2 linked regions of the Homo sapiens genome follow. The protein of the gene in region 1 interacts with the protein of each later gene in a pairwise test. Each region holds a gene or a part of one and is shown in the gene's direction. Other genes may lie near its edges.

Evidence for each region.
Region 2: the proteins of EIF5B (region 1) and SRSF12 interact in a two-hybrid assay, tested with the Homo sapiens proteins (one large-scale study listed by BioGRID).

Annotation. Positions count from the first base shown.
Region 1 is NC_000002.12:99,389,389-99,392,888, forward strand, and holds part of EIF5B (eukaryotic translation initiation factor 5B), read left to right. Parts: intron 1-329; coding exon 330-461; intron 462-830; coding exon 831-1,013; intron 1,014-1,155; coding exon 1,156-1,317; intron 1,318-3,500. UniProt on the Homo sapiens protein: Plays a role in translation initiation.
Region 2 is NC_000006.12:89,101,072-89,104,571, reverse strand, and holds part of SRSF12 (serine/arginine-rich splicing factor 12), read left to right. Parts: intron 1-3,500. UniProt on the Homo sapiens protein: Splicing factor that seems to antagonize SR proteins in pre-mRNA splicing regulation.

The DNA of each region.
Region 1 (3,500 bases):
TGATTTGTTACAAAAACTGTTTCGGAATTCCAACAATATACATTAATAGTCTTAGGATAATTCTAGGATGTTATCTTTTGCAAACAAATGGCAGCCACTTAGGAACTCATGGAGGCTGACAGGGGCAGCATGGCACCACAGCAGTTTCTAATTTAAGAGCAGGTGCCGATAAGCAGTCTGAAAGGAGCTTTTGGTACAATAAAGTGTATGAGTAAGTCACACTGTTCTGTATATATGAGACACACATGAGGAATTTTCTGGAGCTATTAATACAGTTCTTGAATGTTCTGAATTTTTTAGAGATCTTTCTCATGAAAAAACTTTTTCAGATTGATAGGTTATATGATTGGAAAAAGAGTCCTGACTCTGATGTGGCTGCTACTTTAAAGAAGCAGAAAAAGAATACAAAAGATGAATTTGAGGAGCGAGCAAAGGCTATTATTGTAGAATTTGCACAGCAGGTAAGAAGGCCTTCCTTCTTTCTGAAGAGCCTATCTCAGAATATGTATTATATTATCTTTATAATGAAGTCAGCATTTTCATTAATACTGGTTCTTTTCCTCTGTTGACAGCAATTACTTTTTTTAAATTCTTCTTCCCTTTTCTCCTTTTTCTTTGCAGTCTGAATACTTTAATTTAGAAAACTGAGTTGACTTAGAACTACTTTGCTATAATACAGTTAATGCTTATAGGATATACATGATCATTTTTAGTGTTTATGAGGAGTTTCAAAATGATGAGCCATTTGCTCATCCGGCTTCTAGTGAGGCACACCTATTCCAGATACGTTTTCTTTACAGCCTGGCATTTTGGATGATTTTTGCTCCTAGGGTTTGAATGCTGCTTTGTTTTATGAGAATAAAGATCCCCGCACTTTTGTGTCTTTGGTACCTACCTCTGCACATACTGGTGATGGCATGGGAAGTCTGATCTACCTTCTTGTAGAGTTAACTCAGACCATGTTGAGCAAGAGACTTGCACACTGTGAAGAGCTGAGAGCACAGGTGATGGAGGTAATGATCAACTTTTCAGTTTATTGTTTTTTTTTTTTTTAAAAATAGCAAGTTCCTTGAGTGGAGGATATTTACTACTTTTAGATTTAATGAACATGGTGCATTGTATGTATGTCTTTCTCTTTGCATTAATGCCTTTTAGGTTAAAGCTCTCCCGGGGATGGGCACCACTATAGATGTCATCTTGATCAATGGGCGTTTGAAGGAAGGAGATACAATCATTGTTCCTGGAGTAGAAGGGCCCATTGTAACTCAGATTCGAGGCCTCCTGTTACCTCCTCCTATGAAGGAATTACGAGTGAAGGTATGCTGAGGTGGGAAGCATTGACACGTGGGGACTTGTACAGTGTTTAGAAGTTCTGCTGAGATGGTTTCCTCACTTTGAAAGCTGTTTGACTTAATACAGAACACATACATCCCTCGCTCTCCCTTTTATTTTAGTTGTCATCATACAGGAAGGCCTGTCTGTCAGAGTAGAGATGTGTGAAAGTACCTGCTTACCAGACTGGGCCTTTGCCAGATTCTAAACTACACTGTTATGGTTCTACACTGCTAAATACGGTTGACTCTTGAACAACATGAGGGCTAGGGGCACTGACTCCCTGGCCAGTTGAAAATCCACATATATTTTTTGACTCCCCAAAAACTTAACTCCTAATAGCCTACCATTGACCAGAAGCCTTACCAATCACATACACAGTCGACTAACATGTTTTGTATGTTTTATATATTACATACTGCATTCTTACAGTAAAACAAGCTAGAGAAAAGAAAACGTGATTAAGAAAATCATAAGGAAAATAGATTTACTATTTGTTAAGTGGAAGTGGATCATCATAATGGTCCTCATTCTCATCTTCATGTTGAGTAAGCTGAGAGGGAAGAAGGAGAGGGGTAGGCCTTGCTGTGTTTGGTGGCAGAGGCAGAAGAAAATCTGAGTATAAGTGGACATATGCAGTTCAAGCCCATTTTGTTCAAGGGTCAGCTGTAGTTTTTTAACATTTTTAATTGTGAAATAAAACATTGCTCCTGAAAAGTACACACAACATAGAAGAAAAGTTTAACACATTTTTGGGAAGCAACCAGATGGAGAATCAGAACGCTGCTGGCACCCAGAAGCTTCCTGTGTGCTTCTTCCTGATCAACTCCCCTGCCTTCCCCTCCTACCCCCTGACCTTTCATAGAGTTAACCATGGTTGCATTTTATGACAGTAACAAATATCCTTGCTTTGCTTTGTTTTTGTGTCTAAGAGTACTTCCCTTAGAAGTGTCTGTAGACTTTATGTAGAAATGGAGTTATTCTCAGTGTGTACTTTTATAGCTGGCTCTTTTTTTTTTTTTTTTTTTGGTGATAGGCTCTCACTGTCACCCAGGCTGGAGTGCAGTGGTGCAGTCACAGTTCACTGCAGCCTCAACCTCCCCGGGGTTCAGGTGATCCTCCCACCTCAGCCTCCTGAATAGTTGGGACTATAGGTACGCACCACCACACCTGGCTAATTTGTTTACAGATGGGACTTTGTCATGTTGCCCAGGCTGGTCTTGACCTCCTGGGCTCAAGCAATCCACCCACCTTGATCTCCCCAAAGTGCTGGGATTATAGGCATGAGCCACCATGCCTGGCCTATATCTGGCTTCCTTTAGTGAAAAAAAAAAAGTATATAATTTTAAGATTTCTATTCCATTGTGTGACTATATCACAACATATCTATCTGTTCTGTTGATGGGAAATGTAGGTGATCTCCAGTTTTTTATGTTTATTTTATTTTATTTTATTTTGAGATGGAGTCTCAGTCTGTCATCCAGGCTGGGATTACAGGTGCACGCCACCACACCCGGCTAATTTTTGTATTTTTAGTAGAGGTGGGGTTTTGCCGTGTTGGCCAGGCTAGTCTCGAACTCCTGACCTCAGCCTCCCTAAGTGAGCCACCGCACCCGGCCCAGTTTTTGATTTTTGTTGTTACTAATAATGCTGCTGCTGTGAACATCTCTTGATGTGTTTGTGCCAGTTTCCCAGGGTATGTATACCTAGGAGTGAAGGCCACACTTGTCTACAGTGGGTGTAACAAATTATATTCTCAACTGCAGTATTTTAGTTTCATTGTTTTACAGCTTCATCAGTTCTTGGATGTTAGGTTTTAAATTTTTTTTGCCATTCTGCTAAGTGTGTAGCTCATTGCCGTTTCAGTGTGCATTTGCCTAATTGTTAACCTGGTTGGTCATTTAAAAATGTTTATTGGCCATTTATTTCCTCCTTCGTGAGATGTACATTTTTCTTCTGCATTATCTTTCTTACAGATTTATATGCGCTTATATATTCAGGATACCGGTTTGTTAGTTGGTGTGTTTTGCAATATCTTCTACTCTTGTGACTTTTTTTTTCCTGTGGTATTTTGAGAAATGGAAATATTTAATTTTAATGTTAAATTTATCAGTCTTGTGATTATTGCTTTTTGTGCCTCGTTTAAGAAACCTCTCTCTAATATCATG
Region 2 (3,500 bases), on another chromosome or scaffold:
TGAGCAGAAAAAAAAAGTAAAAAAAAATACATACTCAGCCGCGTGCAGTGGCTCACACTTATGATCCCAGCACTTTGAGAGGCTGAGGTGGGCAGATCTCGAGGTCAGGAGTTCAAGACCAAACTGACCAACATGATGAAACCCCGCCTCTACTAAAAATACAAAAATTAGCTGGGTGTGGTAGCCACGCACCTGTAATCCCAGCTACTCAGGAGGTTGAGGCAGGAGAATCACTTGAACCTGGGAGGCGGAGGTTGCAGTGAGCTGAGATCACGCCATTGCACTCCAGCCTGAGCGACAGAGCGAGACTCCGTCTCAAAACAAAAAGCAAAAAAAAAAAAAAAAAAAGGTGATGAGTTTTAGATAAATAAAATTTTCCTAAATGTGCCCAACAGTTTGTAATCTTCAACTTTAAAAATGTTTAAATGTGTAAGAAATACAATAAAATGTCCAGGTGCCATAATCTCAGCACTTTGGGAGGCTGAGGTGGGAGTATCACTTGAGGCCAGGAGTTTGAGACTAGCCTGGCCAACATGGTGAGACTCCGTCTCTCCAAAAAAAAAAAAAAAAAAAAAAAAAAGAAATATAATAAAATCCCTTGTGAAAGGTGGTTGACTAAAGTTAATGTAAATCAATTTACTTATAAAAGATAAGTTATCAAGAATAAATTCCAAGTATGGCAGTATTGAAGAAGACATATTAAATAGTAATTTGGGGGCAGGGGAAAAGATATTTTCAAGTTATTTATTTTGCTAGCCAGGAGTTTATTTCTATTAGAATAATAGTGAATCACAACAGAAATTAATTATATGGACCAGGTGCAGTGGCTCACGCCTGTAATCCCAGCACTTTGGGAGGCCAAGGCGGGTGGATTACTTGAGGTCAGGAGTTCAAGACCATCCTGAGCAATATGGTGAAATCCTGTCTCTACTAAAAATTCAGGCCAGGCGCAGTGGCTTACGCCTGTAATCCCAGCACTTTGGGAGGCCAGGGCGGGGGCGGATCACCTGAGGTCAGGAGTTCGAGACCAGTCTGGCCAACATGGCGAAACCCCGTGTCTACTAAAAATACAAAAATTAGGTGGGTGTGGTGGCACAGGCCTGTAATCCCAGCTACTTGGGAGGCTGAGGCAGGAGAATCGCTTGAACCTGGGAGGCAGAGGTTGCAGTGAGCTGAGATCACGCCACTGCTCTCCAGCCTGGGTGACAAAGCGAGACTCTGTCTCAAAAAAAAAAAAAAAGAATTTAAATTGATTGTTTCTAAATGCATTACAGCCTTAGTGAACCAGTTTTTTTCTCTTGCTTGATTTAAATAAGGTGGATATTCACATCATTTTCTGCCTTCTAGTGGAAGTAAAGTATAATACTTGACTGTCTCAAATCATCCTGGAGTATCAGGGATGGAAGGACCACATCTTTCAGGGCAATGCTATTCTGCTTTGTACTTGTTATAAGACCATTGCTTAACCTCCCTGACACCAGTTTTTCTCATTTTAAAAACTGTCTTATGGCCAGGTGCAGTGGCTCACACCTGTGATCCCAGCACTCTGGGAGGCCAGGGTGAGATCACTTGAGTCCAGGAATTTGAGAGACCAGCCTGGGCAACATAGTGAGACCCCCATGTCTACAAAAACTAAAAAAAATTAGCCACGTGTGGTGGCACACACCTGTTCCAGCTACTGGGAGGGAGGGAGAGGGTGGACTGAGGTGTGAGGACTCCTTGAGCCCAGTAGGTCAAGGCTGCAGTGAGCCATGATTGCACCACTGCACTCCAACCTGGGCAACAGAGGAAGACTCTGTCTCACAACAAATAAATAAATAAATTATTAAAATGTAAAAAAAGGTATTCTGTAAATCTTTGTTAACTTTATATCAAGGAATGTGTATGTTAGAACTCTAAATGTTCCTGAACAGTGTTAAAATTGCTCCTCAACTCCCTTTTCTTTAGTCCAAATATATTATAGCGTCCTTCTTTTACTATGTTAGGATTTTTTTTCAAGGACATTTTCTTCATTTTGCTTCCTACAGCTGTCTACAAAATGAATGAAATTTAATAATTTCTAAAAGACTGTGAATTTATTCCAGAATATATTCTACATCAATGTATTTTCAGTATAAATATATAATAAAAAATTCAAGAGAGGCCAGGTGCAGTGGCTCATGCCTGTCATCTCAGCACTTTGGGAGGCTGAGGCAGGTGACTTGAGGTCAGACATGCCTGGCCAACATGGCGAAACCCCATCTCTACTAAAAATACAAAAATTAGCCAGGTATGGTGGCACGTGCCTGTAATCCCAGCTACTTGGGAGGTTGAGGCAGGAGAATCGCTTGAACCCGGGAGACAGAGGTTGCAGTGAGCCAAGCTCGCCCCACTGCACTCCAGCCTGAGTGACAGAGCAAGACTCTGTCTCAGAAACAAACAAACAAAACCAAAAATTGAAGAGGCTCTACATGGTGTTATCATTCTCCAAAGAAAGCTTTTTAAATTTCTTCATCTAGTTCAATGTTACTATCTAGTATCATTTTTCTTCAGTCTAAAGAATATTTAGTATTTCTTTTTTTCCTCTTTCAGCTCACCGAGAAGTACCAGGGCAGTGAATATTTAGTATTTCTTATAGTACACATCTGCTGATAGTGAATTATCTCAGCTTTTGTCTGAAAACATCTTTATTTAAAATTCATTTGTGAGAAATATTTTTGCTGAGGATAGAATTCTATATTGGCAGTGATTTTATTTTTCTCTTTAAAAATGTCATTCCATTGTTTTTCTGATACCCATAGTGAGTTGTCAGTCTTGTGGTTGCTCCTTTGAAAGAAATTTGTCTTTCATTCTCTGGCAAGGTTTTCAGATTTATTTTTATTTTTATTTTTTTTTGAGACAGAGTCTCACTCTGTCACCTGGGCTGGAGTGCAGTGGCACAATCTCGGCTCACTACAACCTCCGCCTCCCAGATTCAAGCGATTCTCCTGCCTCAGCCTCCCGCCACCACACCCAGCTAATTTTTGTATTTTTAGTAGAGGCGGAGTTTCTCCATGTTGGCCAGGCTGGTCTGGAACTCCTGACCTCAGGTGATCCACCTGCCTCAGCCTCCCAAAGTGCTGGGATGACAGGCATGAGCCACCGCACCCGGCCGGTTTTCAGATTTTTTCTTTGACTTTGGTTTTCATCAGTTTCACTGTGATGTGCCCAGTGTAGTTTTCTTTGCCTATGTGGGGTTTATTGAGCTTTTTGAAATTGTGAGTTAATGCTTTTTGTTAGTTTTGTAAAATTCTATGCTATTATCTCTTCAAATATTGCTTCTGCCTTATTCAGTCTTTCCTCTGGCTTGTGTGACTGTATGCTATACATCTGCTGTGTTCTTTTAGGGATTTCTTAAAATTCCTTTTCTCACACTGTATTTCGGTAGGATGTTTTTCTAATGATCTTTTAGTTAACTATTTCTTTTCTTTTTTTTTTTTTTTTGTCTTGGAGGTTTTCTCTTGTTGCCCAGGTTGGGGTGC